3 separate regions of the Homo sapiens genome follow, and regions 1 and 3 are each linked to region 2. The links come from fine-mapping of genetic effects on gene expression. A gene starts in region 2. Each other region holds a variant in brackets. All regions are shown on one strand. Distances are from middle to middle. Region 1 has its middle 50 kb from the start of OR1J1. Region 2 holds the start of PTGS1 (prostaglandin-endoperoxide synthase 1). Region 3 holds the start of LOC124902264 (a long non-coding RNA gene).

Region 1 (8,187 bases), 58 kb after region 2:
AGGAAGCTAGGAGGCTTTGAGTGTAAAATATCAGAAAAGTTTCAGTGCGCATGTAGCTGCCTCTGTGGGGTGTGCTCCATTCTTGTTAACGAGGCCCCAGAGAAACTTCATTTGAGAATCTCCTGGCTCATCTGCTTCAATAGTAATTAGCCATGCAGAGAAGATCTCTGTGGTTTAATTAAGTGGCATATGTGGTTAAAAGTTTGTCTTCTTCTAAGGGAGCAGTAATTAAAAATTAAGCGTAGTCTCTCCATGGATCAGTATCTTCATTGGAAACACGGCCTTTGGCTGTCACCAATTCAGAATACTGGAGAAACAGGCACTTCTCTCTCAGGCTCGTCTGCCCCCCTTCCAAGTCCAAAAAGTAGGACCTACCTGGGTCTGATTGGGAATGACACCTAGAATTGAGGGACCAAGTTGGGGGAGATGGGTCTTGCATGGCCATAGTCAACCTCAGTGATATCCTCTGTGTTGAAGGAGGCATAACATTATAGAATGAGATTGGTGAGAGCACTGAGGTAGTAGTGCACCTGATGTATTTAAGGAATAACAGACCAGTATGGCTGGACTGGGCTGAATGAATAAAGAGGGGCAGGAGCTGAGGTCAGAATGGCCACAGGACCAGTTCACATAGTCTTGTAGTCAGATTATTGCAAAGATTTTGGCTTTAATGTGAGCCAACTTTATCAATATTTTGTTTTTGCTACATTTTGATCTTATTTAGAAAATCTTTCCATAGCCTAAGTTCTAAAATATAACTTTTATTTTCTACAAAGTGTTTTTTCTAAAATTAAGTTTTCTAAAGCATAATTTATGAACAATAGCATTTATTCATAGGAAGTATTCCATTTGATGAGTTTTGACAACAGTATGCCGTTATGTAACAACTACAATGAAGATACACAATATTCTTATTGCCACAAAAGTTCTCTCCTACCCATTGGTAGTCACTATCCTTCTGCCACTCCTAGCCCCAGGCAAACGGTGATCTGATTTCCTGCTTCCTTTTCCTGAATGTCATACAATTAGAATGATATAAGATGTAGCCTTTTTTTGGTCCAGCTTCTTTGATTTTGCATACTTTTTTTGAGATTCTTCCAAGTTGTTGCACATATAAGTAATTCGTTCATTTTTATTGCTGCATATGGATGTACCACAATTTGGTTATCCATTCATCATTGGTGGACTGTCTCCACTGTTTGGCTACTGTGAATAAAGCTGCTCTAAACATTGGCATACAGTTCTTTGTGTGAACATATGGTTCCTTGTCTTTTGGGTAAATACCTAGGGATAGGATTGCTGGGTTGTATGGTAGGTATGTGTTAAACTTTTAAAGAAACTGCTAAACTGTTTTCAAAAAGGGCTGCTCCATTTTGCAATGGATACAATTTCCAGGTGCTTCTCTCACCAGAGCTTGGTATTAGCCATTTTAGTGATGTGTAGTGGTATTTCATTGTGGTTTTGATTTGCATTTCCCTAATGACCAGTGGTGTCAAGCATCTTTTCATGTGCTTATTTGCCATCTGTATATCTTCTTTGATTAAGTGTCTGTTCAGATCCTTTGCCCACTATTTGAGCTATTTGTCTTATAATTGATTGTGAGAGTTCTTTTTTCTAGATAAAGTCTTTATTAGGTATGTGTTTTGCAAACATTTTCTCCCAGCCTGTGGCTTGTCTTTACATTCTCTTAACAGTATCTTTCAAACAGCAGAAGTTTAAAATTTTGATGATGCTGAATTTAGCAGTTTTTTTCTATTATGGTTTTTGCTTTTTGTTTCTTATGTGAAAATTATTTGCCTAATCCAAGGTTACAAAGCTTTTCTTTTGTTTTCTTCTATAAGTTTTACAGTTTTAGCTCTTACATTTAAGTCCATGATCCATTTTGAATTAATTTATATATATGGTGTGAGTTAAGGATTGATTTTTTTATATGGATATCCAATTGTTCCAGCATCAGTTGTTGAAAAACTGTCCTTTCTCTATTGCATTGGAATTTTTGTCAAAAATCAATTGACCATATAACTGTAGATCTATTTCTGAACTCTTGTTTGATTGAGCTTTAAAACCAAAAGTACACTGTCTTGATTATTATAGCTTAGTAAGTCTTGAATTGCATGGTGTGGGTCTTCTTTCCTCCCCCAAAGTTATTTAGGTTCTTCTAGGTTTTTTGCCATTTCCATATAAATTTTATTTTAAAATTTTCAACTTACAAAAGAGCCCAATAGAATTTTGATTGAGATTTCATTGAACCAGTAGGTCAGGAATTGCCAAAAAAACACTTTCACAGAAACACATAGAATAATGTTTGACCAAACACCTTGTTACCATGGCTCAGCCAATTTGATACATCAAATCAACTATATAGTCTCTCTCCTGATGAATATCACCGTCTTTACCTTCAGTCTCTATTAATGGACTACATTTTTACCAATATTCATAACAAAAAATTAGAATTTTACAGTTTATCTGTAATTAGAAATATGTCTTCATACTTATAAAAGAAAGAATGTTTATGGTCAGGGCATGAGATCCTTTATGAAGATGCAGATTTAAAAAAATCTATACTTTTGCTATCCAGAGGTAACCACTGTTTCTACATTTTGGTAGATTTCCTCAAATTTATTTATATTTATGCCAAGTCTTATTCCTGAAGAATTTAAGGAAGCTTGGAAATACGTATAAAATACAAGATAAGATAAATGGAAAATGAGGTTAGAAAAAGAACAAAAGGGGGGATAAACAAGGGTGGAGACATAAAATTGAGCCAGGAATGACTCTGAAAATGCAGATTATGATGACTGTTGTTATGGGTGGGCCTCAGATTTGGCTCAGGCTTTCTGGTCAGTCACACAGTTCACTGGGACCAAAAGTAAAAATAAACCACTTGATTAGGTGAAATTATATCATCTGCGGTTCTAAGAACAGACACATTGCATGGGGTTTCTTTTAATCCGTCTTAATGTAGGCTTTGGCAATCAAATTGGGGTGTAAAAATTCACAGTAAACAATAGCTCAGAGGCAAAAAGAATGCTGTCTAGGTGCTCAGATTTCCAGTGGTTTGGGTGGACAACATATTGGATTTTAGTCTTGCAGGTAGGTATGGATGACCTGCATGTCCTTTGAGCAAGCTTCCCTAAATATATTTTCTTTTAGTTAAACTTTTGGTAAACACTGAGTATCAGTGACCACCAACTAATAGTCCCTC[G/A]TTGATACCTAAGCTGCGGCTGGTGTCTATTATCAATCAAGTAGAGGTGAATCCTATTTAGAGTTGGCAATCAAACAACACACTAGTATTTAGTGCAGGGCTTTCAGTCAGACAGATGTTTCAGATTCTAACTCCATAACTCAACTAACTGTGCAGTAATAAACAAGTTAAAAATTTCACCAAGTCTCCAGGTTCTCATCTATAAAATGTGAATAACATCAGTATCTGTCTTGTAGGGTTGTCGTTGGGATTAAATATGTTTACACAAGTAAAGTATGTAACACAATAACAAGAGTATAGTAAGTGTTCAATAAATGATATTATTATTATCTTTATAAAGCTGAGGAGACTAATGAGGACTTGTGCCTAGAAATAAGGCCATCAGACATCTGCTTCCAGGTGAGCTGAGACAGCACCCACCGAACGTGTTCCAGGACCCAAATAAAATCTTAACCTTAAACTACGTAACTTTTGAATGAACTCCCAGATTCCAGTGTATTCTACACCAAGGCATCTCAAGTGTTAGTCTGTGGATCAGTGTTTGTCCATAATGAAGTTTTCATGCATGAACTGAAAAAAAAAAAAAAAAACAACCCTGCAGAATTGGCTCTGTTCCCAGTACTCTTCTCTATCTTTAGGTTAATTTATATTTCTTGTAGAAAGCATTTAGTTGGAACTTTTTAAAACCATGGTGATAATCTTTGTTTTTTAAGCCTCTGGGAAGGAGGTAGTTAGAATATCTGCGTTTGATGTAATTGGTGATAGTTTTGAGTTTAAACCTACTTTTTAATTTTGGCCTTTCTTTTCTTTTCTTTTTTTCTTTCTTTCTTTCTTTTTTTCTTTCTTTCTTTCTTCTTTCTTTCTTCTTTATTCCTTCCTTCCTTCCCCCTTCCTTCCTTCCTTCCTTCCTTCCTTCTCTCTCTCTCTCTCTCTCTTTCTTTCCTTTCTTTCTTTCTTCAGAACCTCACTCTGTCGCCCAGGCTGGAGTGCAGTGGTGCAATCTCTGCTCGCTGCAGCCTCTGTCTCCCGGGTTCGAGTGATTCTCCTGCCTCAGCCTCGCGAGTAGTTGGAATTAAAGGTGCGCACCACTACACCCAGCTAATTTTTGTATTTTTAGTAGAGATGGGCTTTCACAATGTTGGCCAGTCTGATCTCAAACTGCTGACCTCAGGTGATCTGCCTGCCTTGGCCTCCCGAAGTGCTAGGATTATAGACGTGAGCCACCGCACTCAGCCTTGGCCTTTGTTTTCTATTTGTTGTGTATGCTTTTCGTTCATCTGTTTTTCCTTTCTTGCCTCCCTTTGGGTGGATTGATTATTATTTTTTAAAGTATTCTCTTTTATCTCCTCTTTATCTCTTTTTAGTTATGCCTCTGTGTTTGTGATTACTCTAGAGATTATAATCTTCACTTTCAACTATCACAGTCTACCTTCAAAAGATGTTCTACCAAATTACAAATAATGTAAGCACCTCATAACAGTACACTTGTGATTCCTCTTCCCAGCCTTTGTACTCTTAATATCATGTTTTATTTCTACAGATGTCATAAACCACATGATCCATTGTTATCATTTCTTACTTTCAATAGTCAACAGTTGTCTAAAGAGATTTAAAGATGTTATATATGATTATAAACATATTTACAATTCATTTCTATATAATTACAAATGTAATTTTTTAAAAAAGGTCCTTTATATTTACCTACATTTTATTTTATCTAGTGCCTTTCTTTCCTTCCTGTAGATTCATATTTCTACCTGATGTCATTTCCCTTTAGCCTAATACACTTCTTTTAGCATTTCCTGTAGTGTGGGTCTGGTGGGAACAAATTATCTTAGTTTTTGTCTAAACATCTCTTCATTTGCTTTCAGATTTAAAGGATATTTTTGCTAGATATAAGATTCTAGGTTGATAGGGTTTTTTTTGGCTTATTTTTAAAGCACTTTAAAGTTGATGCTCCATTGTCTTCTGACTTTCAGTATTTCTGATAAAAACTCAGAAATTATTTTTATCTCCTCATCCCTTTTCCCTTGCATAGGATATGCCTTATTTCCTGTGGCTGTTTTCAAGAATATCTTCTTGCCTTTGGTTTTACTGGTATGCCGACGTATGCTACATTTTACTGGTATGCCTACATATGTTTTCATTTTTGTTGTTTTATTTTATTATTATTGTTTATTGTTTTTATTTTTTTGTGAAGACAAGGTATCCTATCTTGCCTAGGCTGGTCTTGAACTCCTAAGCTCAAGGGACCCCCCTGCCTTGGCCTCCCCAAGTGCTGGGATTACAGATATGAGCTACTGTGCCTGGCCAGTTTTATTATTTTTTAACTTCAACTTTTATTTTAGATACAGGGGTACATGTGCATGTTCATTACATGGGCATTACACCCAGGTAGTGAGCATTACATATGGTTTCCTTTGTATTTATCCTCCTTGGGTTTCAATGAGTTCTTTGGATCTCTGGGAAAAGTCTTAACCATCATCTTTTCAAATATTTCTTCTGCCACATTTTCTTTCCTTTCTCATTCTTGACTTTCAATTTTAGATGTTATACCATTTTCTATTGTCCTCCATTTACCAAATGCATTATTTCCCCCATCTTGTGTTTCAGTCTGTGTAATTTCTGTTGACATGGCTACAAATTCATTGGTTCTTTCTTCTGCTGTGTTCGATCTGCTGAGGAGCCCATTGAAAAATTTTTTTTTCTGTTTCAAAATTAGTTATTCTCTTTTTTGATATATATTTAAGGCATATGACATGATGTTTTGATGCACAAACACATAGTAAAAAATCTTTCTATCTGATATTGTATTTTTTATTTCTAACATTTCCATTTGGCTTGTAGATATTACATAGTATAAAAATATAGTATAGTAAATATATAGAGAGTATAGTACAGTAATAAAATATGTTATATATAGTATAGTACATGTAATATATACACTTGTGGTATATAAATATATACTATATATAATATATATTATATCTACACTATAAAAGTTTCAATTTCACTTCTGAAACTCTCCATCTGTTCAAGCATGTAGCCTATCTTTTTCAGTACACCCTTTAATATTTTTATCATAGTTATATTAAAGTCCCTCTCTAATAATTCTAACATATAAAGTCCTCTTTGAGTCTTGTTATATTGATTATTTTCTCTCTTGGTGGATCACATCTCCATTTTTCATATGTGTAAAATAACAGAGAATATATAAATAATATTTAGGCCCCCCAAAATACATGATCCAGTTTAATTGTGGCTATCAGTGTGGGAAACTGAGTCAAACTAATTTAGAGTTGAGTAGTCTGGACTTTGTTGTGGCTTTAGTGAGATACAGTTCACTACTGACTTCAAATGATATGAGGGCAAGATTGTAACTTTCCTTTAAGAAGGGCTTGTGTATGAATAAATGTGGGGTTTCTTTTAATTCTCCTGATCTTTCCTTAGCCTTCAGCCAGCCTAGTATACCTTTGCCTGGTGAATAGGATGGTTCTCTCTCAGCTCTTCAGCCTCTTCTCCAGCCATAGGCAGCAACTGCCTTGTATTCCGTGGAGGCCTGGAGTGATAGTGGCGTGTTTCTCAGTTCTACAGCTCCCTCTCTGCTTGTGCTTCAGGTGGAGGTCTCTCTTTGCTGTCCTACTTCCTTTCCCAGCTCTGGTGGCTGCTGCATAGAACTCAGTGAAGTCCTACTGTGTCTGAAGGTTTCCTTCTCCATTTGCCTGTCCTGCCCCAAGACCTCAGCATGCTCTGTGCTCCTGTGTGCTATGTATAGGAGGAGAGGGCAGGTGGTCTTTCTCAGATTTTCTTCACCTCCTTCAGACATAGACAACTGCTGCCCCATAATCTGGTTTAAAGGGACTGTTAAAAGAGATTGCTAAGTTGTCAAACTGCCTGTGTAAGGTTGATGAGTTATGACAAAAACCAAACCCAGAACTATCTTTGTGAGTTGATGAGGGTTACTACAAAAACCAAGACCCAGGAGGTGGTCACAAAGAAACTCATGAAATTTAGCTTATTATAAATTTCCATTTTGAAAAAAGCTTAGTGACATACAAGCTGTAAATTCTTTCAGATGCTTCTAGACAGAAACATTGAACATGGGAATACTTGCCTGAGGCATGAACTTGGTACATAAATTTGTAGAGGCCAAGATCTCAGCTAATACCTAGGTGGCTCACTTCTAGATTTATAAAGCAAGATCAACTTGGTTTTGATCTGTTGCAAGCCACTTACTATATTGGAGCTTGAAACAGTACCTCACGTTGTATGGTGGATGTGGACTTAAGCTGAAAAAATGATCCCATTCAGAACCACAAGAAGATAAGCTACTTAGGAATTGTGATGGTTAATTTTATGTATCAATTTGACTGGTTTAAGGGATACCCAGGTATTTGCTAAAACAGTATTTCTGAGTGTGTCCATAAGGATGTTTCTGAAAGAGATTAGCATTTGAATCAGTGGACTGAGTGTAAAGAAGGTCCACCTTCACCAATGTGGGTGGGCATCATCCAATCAGTTGGGAGTCTGCATAGAACAAAAAGGCGGAGAAGAGAAAATTCATTCTTTCTTCTAGAGCTGGGACATCCATCTTCTCCTGCCCTTAGACATCAGAGCTCCAGGTTCTCAGGGCTTGGGACTGCAGGTCTTACACTAGTGGCCTCCCTCGTTTTCAGGCCTTTGGACACAGACTGAATTACACCAGGCATCCCTGGTTTTCCAGCTTGCAGACAGCGGATAGAGGGACCTGGGGCTCATAATCACATGAGCCAATTCCCATAATGAATCTTCTGTTATATTTATCCTATTGATTCTGTTTCTTTGGAGAGCCCTGATTAATATTGAGGAATAAAATTAGTAAGATATATATATATAAAATAAGATATACATATATAAAAGTTAATGATATATATGTTATAATATATATACACACACACATATATACACACATACTATATAATATTAATATACGTATACTTTAA
Region 2 (8,187 bases):
GTCCCCTAGCCAGAGAATGGCTCTTTCCCCTGGTTTGTCCGTCACAGGTGGCTGAGTCCCCTGATCCCAGGAGCTGATGTCTGAGGCTCTGCGGATTACACTGATGGTGGGGGCTGGCTGGGGAGGATGCCATGGTGTGACCACTCAGCCATCCTGTGCCAAGCAGATGGTGCTGGCTGTCTAGTGGAGAGGTCTGCGGGACAGGGCACCTGCAGTGGAAACTCCCCAGATGAACTTGGGGACTCTCCACTTAGAGTCTCCTGCTTGTTTATCTTCTTGGCCCATTCCTGGCAGGATTTGGGTGTTTGTTTAAGGATTCAGGGTTTGAGATCCAAGATAACCAGCGATGAGCGTAATAGGGAGTTACACTTGTAAATGTTGAAATCATACAGGCCATGGCTCAAATCCCAGCTCTACCACCCATATATAGCCTGTGGTATAGGCTATAGCAAGTCAGTTAATTTTCCTGTTTATAAAAATGGAGACAAGAGGAACATCTACCTCATGGGGCTGTTAGGAGTTATAAAGGGGATGATGCACCAAAAATCTTTAGCATAATGTCTGCCACATGGTAAGTGCCCCAGAAGTGGTTAAAACTCCTCCCACTTTTCTTCCTCTCTGCATAATCTACGGACATCTTTGAGCCTCATTTTCCTCTTTGCACAATGGGGATCATGATACCTTCTTCTTCCAGCAATTGTGAGGGTTTCCATGAGAAAGGGATGTAAACGCATTTGGTAGGCCGGGTGTGGTAGCTCATGCCTGTAATCCCAGCACTTTGGGAGGCCAGTGTGGGAGGATCACTTGAGCCCAGGAGTTCAAGACCAGCCTGGGCTACATAGTGAGACCCCCGTCTCTACAAAAAAACAAATAAAACAAAATTAGCTGGGCATAGTGATATGCACCCGGTAGTTCCAGCTACTCAGGAGGCTGCGGTAGGAGGATCACCTGAGCCCAGGAGATCAAGGCTGAAGTGAGCCAAGTTCGCACCACTGCAGTCCAGCCTGGGCAACAGAGTGAGACCCTGACAAAAAATAACCAAAACCAAAACCAAAACATTATTTTGTGACTCTCAGTTCTCAGCTTCTCAGCTGAACTATGTTGCTTAAATTGGATCCCACACATCGCTCCACAAGCCGACTACCACCCTAGCGAGCCTTTCTGTTTCCTTTTAACTTCAAACACTCGTTGGTTATGCTGGGGCTTGGGTACAGGTACCCGGTATTCCAGAACAAAAGGGTTGGGCCTTGAAACCTGACTCTTACTGGTTGTGCATCTTGGACAAGCTGCTTCAACACTGGGCCTCACTTTCTTTCTCTGTAAATGGAAGTGATGATACTGACTTTATAAGGTTGTTGAGAAAAATCACATGTAACAGTGCATTTAAAACACATAGCATTCTACCCTGCACATAGTAGATATTCAAGAAATATTAGCCATTATTATTATTACCTCCAATGGTCAACCCTAGCCTGGTTCTGAGTAGGTAAAGAGGAGGAGGAAGGGAATTTTTCATGCAACCCTCTTGCTCAGGTAGGGAGTAGAAGCGAGGGCCAATAAAGAACTAGCATTGAGCTCCTACTGAATGCTGGGGATGCTCACAGGGACTATCTTACTTCATCCTCACAACAACTCTTGCAAGAGTGGCATTATTAACCACGTTTTTACAGGTGGGGGAACTGAGGTCCACAAAGGGCAGTTTGCTGCTTAAGGTCACACTGAGAGGTCAGGTGGGGTGGAGGACTGGGATTTGAAGAGATATTGGATTGAGTCCAGAGCCTTCCTGCCTGACTGAGAAGCTGCCTACACAGGTGGGGCCGGGTGGGGCTGGGTCCATGAGTGATTCAGGTAAGAGTCAGCTCTGGTTTTCCAAATAGTGGGTGGGGCCCAGCAGGAGTGAGACCTCTCCAGGAGCATTACAATCCAGGCTGTAGCTAGGGTGAGCAGGAGGGCACGTGATTGGTGTGGATAATGGGGAGGGGGCTATGCAGAGAGAAATCCTATCCCTTGTTACCAGTGGGGTATAGGGAAGGAGGTCCTTGCTGCCTTAGCTGGGAAGGGCTCAGGGCCTGGGGTGAAGCTGGGCCTGTGGGACAGCTGGGGGTGCTGGCCCATGGGACAAGCTGGAGAAGGCAGGGAAACTGAGGCAGGCAGTGATACTTTTGGTGGCCGTCACAGCAGATGGGTGGTTGGCAGTCACTTCGATGAGGCTGGTGCTGGACCTGGTCTGTTTTTTTAATGCATTCACTACTCTTTTAGATACTCATTCATTTCTTTGTTCAAGCAACAAACATTCCCTGGATGTCTTTTATCCGCCAGATCCTATGCTTGGCCTTGGGGCTACAAGAGTGACCAGGACTCTTATAGCCTCATAATGTTTGGGGGCAGAGGGACAATGTGATCAGGAGTGGCACTGCTGTGGCCAGGGAAGGCACAGGGGCTTCCTAGAGGAGAGAAGGGGGAGGAGGAGGCATGTTAGAGGAGGCCTACCAGGGGACATGGGAGGTGGACTTGCCCTATAAGTGGAAGCTCACAATCTTGAGGACTAGGATGGTGACACCAGTCCTAGGCATTTAGACTATAGCTTTGCAGTAGGGAGCAGGAAAAGGTGGCCCTGTGCTGTGGTCTCTTTCCCAGGGCTGGGGCAAGGGCTACCCCAGACCTCTCCCCTGTGTATCCAGCTGCATGCTGGGGCGGTTGGGGGTGCTGGCCCATGGGCCAAGCTGGAGAAGGCAGGGAAGGTTTGATCCTCCTCATTCCTTGAAGTGGATCAAATACAAGAAGCCCAAATTCAAATTCCACCTACCCATGCCAGCTCCCCTTCCCTGGATATTACCACCAGCATTGAGCCAGAAGGCTAGGTGTCCTCAGCACCTTTCTTCCCCTAAGCTCTAGTGCTAATCGGTCACCAAGCCCTGGCACTTCTGCCACCATTTCTCTCATCTACCTTCTCCCCACTCCATGCTCTTGGTCCTGCCTCATCCCTGGAGGGCTGCCTCGGCACCCTGCCTGCTCTCTCAGACTCCATCCTCTCCTGTATTGCAGCTGTGTTGAGATCTGTGGTGCTGGTCACAGAGCCTGGCTGCAGTGAGGGCTCAATTGCTCCATGCTGGAACTGGACCAGTCCTCAGAGACCATCTGATCTGCTCATTCTGTTGTTCAAATGGGGAAACAGAGGCCCAGTGAGGCCTAGCGGCTTGTTTAAGGTCACGCTATGGAAGAAGTGACTTGAACTCACTTCTGATTCTGAGGTGAAGGCTCTTCCCATCAGTGCCAGGGCCACACAAGTGTTTCTTGTTTTGAGTGCAGATGGGTGGCTTGGAAGTCAGCAGGAGGCACAGGTGTGGTGACTTGATGGGCTCAGGGCCCAAAGGGAGGGAGGGCCTGGGAGTGGAAGATGGAACCTCATTCAAGCCCGTCTCTCCTTTCTTCTCACCAGAAACTCCCCCTTTCTTTGGACAACTGGACCCCCACACCTCCACCCTGTCCCCATCCCTTTTGCTGATAATCCCATCTCCTTGCCCTGTAAATGCTAGGGGGCCCTTGATTTGGGGAGGAAGGGAAGGCTGAAGCCGGTCCCGGCACCCTGAGAGCCCCAGGGCCCTCCAATGCCCCACTCCTTCTCCAGGTCTGCCCTGGCTTGCTCTGTCTCCCTAGGGCAGCTGGCTTTTGTCCCAGGGGAGCATGGGAACAGCTTGGGTGAGAATGGGGGAGGGGCTTCCCAGCAGGTTTCACCTCTCCCACCTGGCATAATTTCTACCCTGCACCCAGTGATGCCCAGGAGCCAGCACAAGAACCTCTGAGCTCTCCTGCCGGCTTTCCCCACTGTGGGGCCCACAGGATGGCTGGGTGTGCTGGGGAAACTGAGGGAGATGACTTGTGGGTGCCAGCACCATGGGACTTTGGGTGATCTTGGACCTATTCCTTCCTCCTTCTAGGTGCTTCCTGAGCTGGCGAAAAGGAGAGCTGGATGCTGGGATTCTATAAATTCGGCGGTGGATGTGAGTCTAGCTACAGCATGGACCCTGGCCAGCCCTGGAATCTGAGTTCAGAGATCTTTGAAAAAATGCCTTCCGATAACTGAGCACCTACTACATGCTGGACACTGCACCAGGAGATTTGTGTGCATTCCCTCATTGAATCTTACAACCACCCTCTGGGATGGTTTTTGCTATTAAGCCGATTTTATAGATGAGAATACTGAGGGCTAGAAAAGATAAGTACCTTGTCCAAGGTGACACGGCCAGTAAGCTGTGGAGTCTGGATTTGAACTAGGCTCTCTTGGAGTTTGGAGCCCGGTCTTTTCATTTCTGGCAGAGACCTGTGGCTTCAGGGGGCGGAGCCCAGCCCATGGGGGAAGTAAGTCCTTCCTGTTAGATCTGTCTGAGGAGTAGTGAGTTTCTCATCTAGGAAACCATCAGCAGGCCAGGCTGGACTGCCCCATTTCTAGCCCCCTTTCTTCTCTGCAGACTGCCCTGTTTCTAGCCCCTTTTCTTCTCTACCCTTTTCTGTAGAGTGCGTTAGACCCATTTTACAGAAGGGGACTCTGAGACCCTTTCTTCTCTGCGGGGCAGGGTATGTGGTTCAGACGAGCCGCTTCCATCCCCAGTTCTGTCCCTAAGCCCTGGGTGACCTCAGCATTGAGCATCGTCTCTGAGCCTCAGTTTCCTGTCTATATCTAGTGCCACCAGGCATCAGAAACGTAAGTGCTTCAAGGATCTTGGGTGAAAAGCCGCTTTAGCGGCGAGCATACACTAATTAATAAAATGCCTTGGCCGGGGCTGGGCAGAGGAAGTAAGCGGGCAGCCGAGGTGACAGCTGGAGGGAGGAGCGGGGGTGGAGCCGGGGGAAGGGTGGGGAGGGGATGGGCTGGAGCTCCGGGCAGTGTGCGAGGCGCACGCACAGGAGCCTGCACTCTGCGTCCCGCACCCCAGCAGCCGCGCCATGAGCCGTGAGTGCGACCCCGGTGCCCGGTGGGGAATTTTCTTGGCCTCCTGGTGGAGCCTTGAATGCCAGGCTCAGCCCCTCATCTCTCTCCTCTGCAGGGAGTCTCTTGCTCTGGTTCTTGCTGTTCCTGCTCCTGCTCCCGCCGCTCCCCGTCCTGCTCGCGGACCCAGGGGCGCCCACGCCAGGTAGGCGGCCCCATCCCTCCCCAAGGGAATCCCCGGTCTTGCGCCCCTGGCCTGGTTTCAACCCCCTCCTTTCCCCTCCAGCGGGCCCAGCTTCCCCTTTCTGCTCGCGGTGCTGAGAAAGACTGAGGCTGAGTCTTTTGGTGGGATGGGGGCTCCCTGAAGCCCCCCCGGCGGTGTGGCCTTGGCTAATGGGCTATCTAGTTCTTTCAGGGGAAACAGCAGACTGGGATCTGGTGCCAACTTGGGGAGAAGGGACAGTCCCTATCCATCCCCCTCACCTGTTCTGGGCCCCAGATGTCTAAGCAGCCTCTGCACCCAACAACCCCGCTGTTTCCTATAGGGGCCTCTTTGGGAGGAAGCCGCAGGCACCAAGGGAAATGAGTTCCCTTTCTCCAGCCTCTAACCGTCTGGGAACCCATCCTGATTCCCATTGCCAGTGGAGAAGGTCTCCCCTGGTGAAGACTTCGGGAGAACATGGGAGATGGAAATACATTTAGGAGCCGGGATGCTTCATCTGGGGTTTAAGAGATCCCCATTGAGCAAATGAGGAAACCGAGGCTCAGTAGGTGCCATGATTCCCCAAGCTCACAAAATACATGGTGGGCCCAGGATCTGAACTCAGGTCTGTCTGCGTCCACACACTTCGCAAGGTCTTTCCACAGAAAGCTGCTTCTACCCACAATGGACCCGGAGCCACTCTGGGTTTCATGGGGGAGGTTGATGGGGAAATTCCGCCCTTCCCTCCCCCATGCATGTGCCAGGTTCCAGGTGAAGGAATTCAGCTCCTCGCTCAGCCAACCTTCCTCCCCCAGCTCGCTGCTTGTGTGTGTGCGTGTGTGTGAGCATGTGTCCCAGTTGGATATAGTTTCCTCCACCACCTAGCTGTGTAAAATCTCTAAAATGAGGCCCAGAGAGGGCAGGAGGGAGCAGAGGGAGTCCGCACTTTCTGCTGTGATGCTCTAAGGATCTGGTGCGTGGGGGAAAGAGGAAAGATATGTACATGGATTTTGGATCAGACCAAGTTTCCTGAAACGGGCTTTGGGTGGGTGGCATTTAGGGGACCCAAAGAGAGGACGGAGGGTGCTCTAGGAAAGGGATTGCGTTGAATAAAAGTCTGGTTTATGGGAAGAGGAGGAGGAAGACTCATGTGGCCAGCACTTTAAAGTTTACAAAGGTTGGTTGTGGACATCCACCTCTTTGGTGCTCTCAACAGCCCTGCCAGAGAGATGCGTTAGACCCAGTCTACAGAAGGGGACTCTGAGGCCCAGAGGGAGTGAAGCCACTTGTCTGAATCCTCACAGTGAGCTGGTGGTGGGGAGTAGAAGGGGCTCTTCAGGTTGCCTCGCTGACCCATCTTGTCAGTCCCTGGATCAGCCCAGCACTTCCTCTGAGGCCCCATCTGGCCTCATCCAGGCACTCTTGGTATACAGGTCCCACCCGTCTGTATTCTTTTTTAGTCCATTCACTAATGCACAATGAGCCATGGTCTGTGCTATTTTGTTTTTTGCCTTTTCTGTTTCCTTTTGTATAATAAATGTTTACACGGAATTGTTTTTTTTTATCCCCAAGGGTTATTTATGCCAGTCTTTGGCTGGGGCCTGGAGACACGGAGCTGGGAGGAGCTGACAGGCTGATGGTGGAGCCAGAAATGCCAACAGACTGTCATCCAAGGGGACCAGGGCTGTGCGGAGCTCATGGGAGGAAGCAGGGGTATAGGGAGCCCAGGGAAGGGAGCAGGGGTGTGCGGAGCTCAGGGGAGGGAGCAGCTGCCTCTCAGTGCGAAGAATTGAGGGAGGCTTCTTGGATCTGATGACTTTTGGACTGGACCTCGAAGGAGGTGGCGGGTGGGGGAAACACTAAGAGACTCGACCAGGAAACACCGTAAGGGTAATGTGGAGCAGGAGGCTGAGGTTGGATGCGTAATGTGGGGATGAGACTGGAGGCCAGAAAACTGGTACCGAGGCTCCTGCAAGGATCTAGGAAAGAACGAATGACTGGTGGAGTGCAGGGGCAGAAGGTCTGGGTTGCCCTCATATTTCCAAGTCTGCGAGTAAACTGAGGGCCAAGCTACTTGGGCATCTGCCCCAGGAAGCCAAAGCCTGTCTTTTACCTCTAGAGGCAAAGGAGATGAAGAGATGAGGGCTGCACTCACCTAAGAGGGCAGGCGGAGGGAGAGAATGCTGCTTTTGCCTCTCTGGTGGGTGAGGAGATGGAGGCCAGCCTGGAGGCAAGGCTGTGCCGGGGGCGCCCTGAATGCTCAAGTACTTCCCCTCTAGTCTCTGGACTTGACTCAGTGCCCATCTTCTAGATGGGGATAGGGCATGACCTGGCAACCAGAGCTGCATGCCAGGCAGAGGAGCCCCAGGCCAGCTGACCCGGGCACATGGGGCAAGATGCCAGCTGTGCCAAGGCTGCCCGGGTGCCTGCACCTGCTCTCGCCAGCACCAGTTGGGTCTGTGGGCCGGGAGAGGGCTTCCCCACCAGCAGGCTCTTCCAGCTGCTGGGCCCAGTTGTCTGGATCTGGTGTGGTGGTGCTTAGGTGTGGGGACTGGGGCCCAGGCCAAACCAGTCAGGGTTCCCCACCTTTTTTTTTTTTCTCTCTGGCTGCCAGGTCCCCAGAGACTCTCTAAATATTACTCTTTAGGGGATTTGGGTCCTGCCTCTTCACTGGGCAATCTTGCAGCCTGACACCTCTGCATCCTGGAGGACTTGGTGTTCCCTGGCTGTGCCTGTCCCCTAGTCACGCTCAGTCCTGGACCTGGAGCCCTGACTTTTGGGCTAGGGGGTGTTCCTTGCCCAAACCCTTGGAAAGGTCCTGGAACCAGGCAGTTCTGGACAGTCCTCATCTGTGGGGATGGGGACTAGCAGCTTGGCCTTTGGGCTGCGTGTGTCTGGCATGCAGCGTGGTGTGCTGATCATCTCTGCCTCCGCGTGTCTTGGGGACTCAGTGAGAGCAAATGGGAAGGTTCTCTGCTGATGGGGCAGTTGTGGGAGGGTTGTATTGATACAAATAATGGAGAGGGACAGATTGGCTCTACCCAGAGTAGAGGGCCTG
Region 3 (8,155 bases), 33 kb after region 2:
TAGCCAGGCAGTACTCCCCATGGGCCTGTGGTGGTGCTGGCCATGGGGAGAGACTCCTCTGCCTGTGGGAAGGGGAGGGATGAGTGGGAAAGACTTGACTTGTAGCTTTGTCTGCAGCTCAGCTGCAGTAGAATAGAACACAAGGCAGATTCTTAAGATTTTCAACTCCAGGCTCTGGTCCCCAAACAGCATCTACGGACCTGCTTGGGGGAACTCGCTGCCCTGAAGGGAAGGACACAAGCTTGGCTGACTTACTGCCTGCTAACTGCAAAGCCCTAAAGCCTTGAGTAAACAAAGGTGGTGGTAGCCAGGTAGTGGTTATAATGGGCCTTGGGTAAGAAACAGTGCTGTGCTGGCTTCAGGTCTGACCTAGTGCAGTCCCAGTGGTGGTGGCCACAGGGGTGCTTGTGCCACCCCTCCCCCAGTTGTAGGCAGCTCAGCACAGAGACAGAGAGACTCTGTCTGTTTGGGAGAAAGTAAGGGAAGAGAACAAGAATATCTGCCTGGTAATCCAGACAATTCTTCCAGATCTTATCCAAGACCATCAAGTGGTACCTCTACAAGTCTGCAAGAGCCACAGCATTACTGGGCTTGGGGTGCCTCCTAATGCTGATATGACTATGGTGACCAAAAACTTAGATGACAACACCCAAGTCCCTTCGAATACCTGGAAAGCCTTCCCAAGAAGGCTTTCCCAAGAAGCCCAGACTGCAAAGACTACCACAAATATCTAACTTTTCAATGTCCAGACACCAGTGAACATCCACAAGCATCAATACCACTCAAGAAAACATGACCTTACTAAACAAACTAAATAAGTCATCAGGGATTTATCCTAGAGAGATAGAAATATGTGATCTTTCTCTATCTCTCAGAGAGAGGTCATATATCTACACCTCTAGGCTTTTCAGACAGAGAATTTGAAATAGCTATTTTGAGGAAACTCAGTGAAATACAAGATAATACAGAGAAGGAATTCAGAATCCTATCAGATCAATTTAACCAAGATATTGAAATAATTAAAAAGAATCAAGCCGAAATTCTGAAGCTGAAAAATGCAACTGACTACTAAAGAATGCATCAGAGTCTCTTAATAGCAGAATTGATCAAAGAGAAGAAAGAATTAGTAACATTTCTATGTGAAAACAGTGAAAATTCTGAAAATAGTAATCCCATTTACGATAGCTACAAATAAAATTAAGTACCTGGAAATTAATCAAAGAAGTGAAAGATCTTGACAATGGAAAATAAAACACTATGAAAGAAATTGGAGAGGACACACGAAAAACAGAAAAATATTCCATATTCATAGATTGGAAGAATCAACATTGTTAAAATGTCCATACAACCCAAAGCAGTCTATAGATTCAATACAATCCTTATCAAAATACCAATGACATTCTCCATATAAACAGAAAAAACAATCCTAGAATTTATAGAGAACCACGAAAGACCCAGAATAGCCAAAGCTATCCTAAGCAAAAAGAACAAAACTGGAGGAATCGCATTACCTGACTTAAAATTATACTACAGAGATATAGTAACCAAAATAGCATTATACTGGCATAAAAACAGACACATAGACTAATGAAACAGACTACTGAACCCAGAAATAGATCTATACACCTACAGGAACTCATTTTTGATAAAGTTGTTAAGAACATACATTGGGAAAAGGATAGTTAATCTTCAATAAATGATGCTGGGAAAACTGAATATCCATATGCAGAAGAATGAAACTAGACTCCTATCTCTTGCCATATACAAAAATAAAATCAAATTTTGAATTAAAAGCTTAAATCTAAGACCTCAAACTACAAAACCACTATGCAAAAACTCTGTGGAAACTCTCTAGGACATTGAAGTGGGCAAAGATTTCTTGAGTAATACCTCACAAGCACAGGCAACCAAAGCAAAAATGGATAAATGGGATCACATCAAGTTAAAAAGCTTCTGCACAGCAAAGGAAACAATCAACAAAGTGAAGAGACACCTCATTTGCCCTGACATGATTATTATGCATTGCATGCCTGTATCAAAACATCTCATGTAACCCATAAATATACACACCTGCTATGTATCCACACACAAAATATGTCTCACACAAAAATATGTTAGACACGCCTACAACCCACTTTTCAACTTTATCATGCTTTTCCTATAAAAATGGACTCTAAATTAAAACAGCTATGTGTGAATGACAGAAAGAAATACTAAAACTTAAAAGATACTTTTATTGAGTACTATTAAGAGAATCACAGTGAAGCACTTTCTTCACTATCTTATCTGTTATTCGTGTTTCATTCAAAGTTGGTTTCCCTCCACACTTGGTCAAAATACGTCTTTTGCTTTCAATCTTTATCCTTTAGTCAAAAGGGATTTTGAGCCATTTGTACAATTGCAGCTTGGGTTTCAGAACGATGTGGCAGTACACCCTTGCAGGTTTCTGTGGCAGGTCGGTCTCCCTCCTGCCTTCAACTGGAGTATAACATACAGCAAAGAGCATTAATCTTAAGTGCATAATTCGACATATTTTTACACATGTATAAACCGCCATAGAAATCAAGATATAGAACATTCCCAGCACTCTAGAAGGCTCTTTTGTGCTCCTTCCCAGTCAAAAACCACTGAAAGGTAACCACTATTTTCACTTTTATCACTTTTGATTAATTTTGTCTACTCACGAACTTCATTTGAATAGCGTCATAAAGTATGTACTTTTTTGTGTGTTTGGCTTCTTTTGCTCAACATAACGTTTGTTGACATCCATGTTGCTGTGTATATCAGCAGTTTGATCTTTTTATTGCTGTGTAATTAACGTATATCACAGTTGATTTATCTAGTCTTCTGTTGATGGACATTTGGGTTGTTTCCATTTTTTTTACTATTATGAATAAAACTACCCTCTATGGTAGATTTTAACTCTTTTTTTTTTTTTTGAGATGGAGTCTCACTCTGTCGCCCAGGCTGGAGTGCAGCGGTGCGATCTTGGCTCACTGCAAGCTCCACCTTCCGGGTTCACGCCATTCTCCTGCCTCGGCCTCCCGAGTAACTGGGACTACAGGTGCCCACCACCACACCTGGCTAATTTTTTTGTATTTTTAGTAGAGACGGGGTTTCACCGTGTTAGCCAGGATGGTCTCGATCTCCTGACCTCGTGATCCGCCCACCTCGGCCTCCCAGAGTGCTGGGATTACAGACATGAGCCACCACGCCAGGCCGATTTTAACTCTTATAATGAGGGCTGTAATTAAAACATCATCTTTACATACACTTATTATGGGAAATGGTTCCAGTTCTCTATTCAAAATTCCCCTTTGTGTCTTCTCTTGCTTCATGGACTGATGGAAAGAGAAAGTGGATTCACGAGGGTACACGTACCATTAGAGAAGGAGAAAGGGAGCATATATTTATCAGACATCTACTCTGGGGCATGTATTTTACCTGCCTATTGTATTAACTCCTCCTAACAATTTTGTAGGTAGGTTTTCCTGTTTCACAAAGGATGAAATTGAGACACAGAAAAATTAGGTGACCTGTCTGGAGTCATACAGCTACAAAGTGGTAGGAGGTCACATGAAATTCCAAAGCGTGGCCTTTTCCCACCATGTGCCCTGTCCAAATCATCTAGAACCAGAATCACAGTAGGGATGGGGGAGTGGAGGGTGGTAGGCATTGGTGATATTGATGCACTTCCAGATGATTCTATCCATAAGCCTCAGAGGGAGCCCTCTGCACTGTATCATGCTGCCTTTGGTCATTCTTTTCCTCTTTAGATGAGTGACGTTTTCTTTCCTCTCCCCATGACTCACTTTTTCCACGCTTGCTGTCTCCTTTCTAATCTATGACTCACACTCTGCATCCTCAGTGACGTTCACTGCATATAACTGGTTATCTGAAATCTCAAAGCAGTGCCATCTCTCTCCCTGCCTGCTGCCCACTTGCCCTTACCCCTTCCCTCACCAAGTGAGCCACACTCAGTGAGGCCCCAACCCAAGCTCTGCCTCCTTCACCAGGCTGATGCTCAAGGATCTGCTCTTGTCTTGATTCTCAGTTCCTGCCCTTATGGGAGGGATTCAGGCCAGATCCTAATTTCCTCCTCCTCCACACTCACCCTATGGGGTAGAAAAGACGGTCTACCAGTTATTTTTCTTTCATTGTGGTAAAATACATGTAATGTAAAGTTGATCATTTTAAACACCTTACAGCGTGCAATTGAATGGCATTTAGTATATTCACAATGTGGCGCAACCATCACCAATACCTAGTTCTAGAACATTTTCATCATTCCAAAGGAAACCCCATAACCATTTTCAGCAGTCACTCTCCATCTCCAGCCCCTGGCAACCATTAACTTTCTTTCTGTCTGACAGTGTTAACAGCATTCACTACATGCCAGGCATTGTGCTAATATCATGATATGCATACCTTATTAATTCTCATGCCAGCAGCTCTGTGAAACTGGGGTTCTTCCTTCCATTTCACAGATGAGATAATTGAGGCTCAGAGAGAAAAGATTTATGTGAGGTCACAAAGCCCGTAAGTGGTAGAACCTGGACAAAACCACCCCCCACTCCAGCCCAGCGCTGTTTCCAACCACTGCTAAATGATGACCAAAACATGAATGATGCAGGTCTGGGTAACTCCTAAGCACATATATTTTCCATTCCAAAAGAATATTCTTTCCACTCCATCCTGAAGGTCAGTGGTAACAAAAAACAAACAAAAAAACGCAGTGAGCACACATTCAAATGACTTA[C/T]GTTCCAGGAATTTTCTGGGATCTGTGACCCCAGAAACTATTAGTTGACATCTTGGGATGGCACACAGGGCAAGCAGAGTAAGAAATAAAGTGACTCCAAATGTGTCACAGGCTGAGGGGGTCTCACGAAAGGAAAGGTTCTAACTGGTACCAGATGGCTGTTTCTCCTGCCTTGTTGTCTAAGATTCTTTCTTCAAGAGTTTGGGCTTTTGGTTGCTAGGACCATGTAGGCTGACTTCCCTTATGGTTCCAGAAACGAAGGAAGCAATTGCAACCTCTGTCCACAAAAAAAGGAGGAGCTTATTAGACTTAACAGAAAAGCTACCATATGACATGCAAGCAAGGCCACGTTTTCCTGATCTTCATGCAATTAAGACAAATCTGTGTTGGATGCCTCGTCCTACCTCACACCAAACATGTTAAAATGTGGCCATATGGCACATTTAGTATAATTTACATATATATGTTGAGGTAGGTTTTAGTTGACTAACATAATACATTTTGTAGACATTTAATTAAACATTTATAACTTTCATTTTGTAAGTTTTTGGGACAGTACAATTATTTCTTCCAAGTCTCAAATAATTCCATAAACCTTTGAAAAGGTCAGTGACCACCAAGCATTGTGCATTGTGTGGGTTTCTTAAACAACCTTGCTTTGTGAGCCTCTCTGCATGATCACTGTTGTTGAGTAGCTGGTCATTCTGGTCATTGGTCTGAATCTGATTGCCTTTATCACTCAGCCAGACAAGAGCTCAGAGGTGGAGTCTCTGCTGATTTGGAAAAATATGGAACATAAGTTCCCCAACAAAGTGTTCCAGTAGATTATTTTTACTTATCGTGCTTCACAAATATAGCTGAACTTGTAGCTGCCATTCAAAATGGCAGCTGGTCTGGACACTAATTGTTAGCAGTTTAGGGAGGACGCAGGGAATCTCACCATTGATGGACTTTGAGCAGTGTAAAAATTGGTAAAGCACAGGGGTACCTGTGGGCATAACCTTGCTAGTAGAAGAGTAGTGACAGAAAAATCATCAAAGGCTTAATAGTGAGGTGGCTTAAAAATAAATTTACAATGCAAATTGAGACATACTTTGCTTACATTAAAATGCACACATCTCAAGTTTACAGCTTGAACTTTTTTTTTTTTGAGACAGGGTCTTGCTCTGTCATTCCAGCTGGAGTGCAGAGGTGTGTGATCGCAACTCTCTACAGCCTTGACCTCTGAGCCTCAAGCAATCCTTCTACCTCAGCCTCCTGAGTAGCTGGGACCACAGGTATGCAAAACCACACCTGGCTAATTTATTTTTTATTAATTTAATTAATTTATTTTTTTAAGACAGAGTCTTGCTCTGTCACCAGGCTGGAGTCCAGTGGGGCAATCTTGCCTCACTGCAACCTCAGCCTCTCAGATTCAAGCGATTTTCCTGCCTCAGCCTACTGAGTAGCTGGGACTACAGGTGCGCGCCACCACACCCAGCTAATTTTTGCATTTTTAGTAGAGATGGGGTTTCACCATGTTGGCCAGGATGGTCTCAATTTCCTGACCTTGTGATCTGCCCACCTTGGCCTCCCAAAGTGCTGGGATTACAAGTGTGAGCAACTGTACCTGGCCTATTTTTATTTTTTGTAGAGATGGGGCCTCCCTCTGTTGCCCAGGCTGGTCTTGAACTCCTGAGCTCAAGAAATCCTCCTGCCTCTGTTTCCCAAAGTGCCACTGTGTCCGGAATTGGTGGGTTCTTGGTCTCACTGACTTCAAGAATGAAGCCGTGGACCCTCAAGGTGAGTGTTACAGTTCTTAAAGGCAGCATGTCCAGAGTTTGTTCCTTCTGATGTTCGAATGTGTTCAGAGTTTGTTCCTTCTGGTGGGTTCGTGGTCTCACTGGCTCAGGAGTGAAGCTGTGGACCTTCGCGGTGAGGGTTACAGCTCTTAAGGCGGTGCATCTGGAGTTGTTAGTTCCTCCCGGTGGGTTCGTGGTCTCGCTGGCTTCAGGAGTGAAGCTGTAGATCTTCAAGGTGAGTGTTACAGCTCATAAAGGCAATGTGGACCCAAACAGTGAGCAGCAGCAAGATCTACTGCAAAGAGCAAAAGAACAAAGCACCCACGGGTTGGAACAAGACCTTAGCAGGTTGCCACCGGGGTGCAGGCGGCCTGCTTTTAGTCTCTTATCTGGCCCCACCCACATCCTCCTGATTGGTCCATTTTACAGAGCTGATTGGTCTGTTTTACAGAGCACTGATTGGTCCGTTTTGACAGGGTGCTGATTGGTGCGTTTACAATCCCTGAGCTGGACACAAGGGTTCTCCAAGTCCCCACCAGAGTAGCCAGATACTGAGTGTCTATTGGTGCATTCACAAACCCTGAGCTAGACACAGGGTGCTGATTGGTGTGTTTACAAACCTTGAGCTAGATACAGAGTGCCCATTAGTGTATTTATAATCCCTTAGCTAGACATAGAGGTTCTCCAACTCCCCACCAGAGTAGCTAGATACGAGTGTCGATTGGTGCATTCACAAACCCTGAGCTAGACACAGGGTACTGATTGGTGTATTTACAATCCCTTAGCTAGACATAAAGGTTCTCCAAGTCCCCACGAGACGCAGGAGCCCAGCTGGCTTCATCCAGTGGATCCCGCAGCGGGGCCGCAGGTGGAGCTGCCTGCCAGTCCCGCGCCGTGCGCCTGCACTCCTCAGCCCTTGGGTGGTCGATGGGACTGGGCGCCGTAGAGCAGGGGGTGGCGCTCGACGGGGAGGCTGGGGCGGCGCAGGAGCCCACGGCGCGGGGCGGCTCAGGCATGGCGGGCTGCAGGGCCCGAACCCTGCCCCGGGGGGAGGCAGCTAAGGCCCGGCGAGAAGTCGAGCACAGCAGCTGCTAGACCAGGTGCTAAGCCCCTCACTGCCGGGGGGCCAGTGGAGCCGGCTGGCCGCTCCGAGTGTGGGGCCCGCCGAGCGCCCGCCCACCCGGAACTGGCGCCTGCTCGCAAGCGCCGTGCGCAGCCCCGGTTCCCGCCTGCGCCTCTCCCTCCACACCTCCCCGCAAGCTGAGGGAGCCGGCTCCGGCCTCGGCCAGCCCAGGAAGGGGCTCCCACAGTGCAGCGGCGGGCTGAAGGGCTCCTCAAGTCCCGCGAAAGTGGGAACTCAGGCAGACGAGGCGCCGGGAGCGAGCGAGAGCTGCGAGAACTGCCAGCACGCTGTCACCTCTCACCACGATTACAGGTGTAAGCCACAGTACCTGGCCTACCTTGAACTTTTTTTAACCTAAAGAGGTAACTGCTAGTCTGACTTCTAGCACTGTAGATAGTTTAGCCTGTTCTTGAACTTCATACGAATGGCATCATACTATATATATTCTTTAATTAATTTTTTAAAGAGACAGGGTCTCATTCTGATGCCCAG

The links.
Region 1: its variant is fine-mapped to the expression of PTGS1 in whole blood (INTERVAL, PIP above 0.99).
Region 3: its variant is fine-mapped to the expression of PTGS1 in whole blood (TOPMed, PIP 0.98).

What each region holds. Positions count from the first base shown.
Region 1 is chr9:122,424,106-122,432,292 of GRCh38, forward strand. No RefSeq gene overlaps it. Among named protein-coding and RNA genes, the nearest start is that of OR1J1, 50 kb to the right of the region's middle. The variant G/A (reference allele first, on the strand shown) is at 3,206.
Region 2 is chr9:122,366,141-122,374,327 of GRCh38, forward strand. PTGS1 (prostaglandin-endoperoxide synthase 1) reads left to right here and starts at 4,884. Exons shown (of 11, transcript NM_000962.4): 1 at 4,884-4,951; 2 at 5,046-5,132. The coding sequence starts at 4,945.
Region 3 is chr9:122,398,756-122,406,910 of GRCh38, forward strand. LOC124902264 (a long non-coding RNA gene) reads right to left here and starts at 4,540. Exons shown (of 2, transcript XR_007061758.1): 1 at 4,429-4,540; 2 at 2,215-2,478. RefSeq lists an enhancer at 3,239-4,438. The variant C/T (reference allele first, on the strand shown) is at 4,760.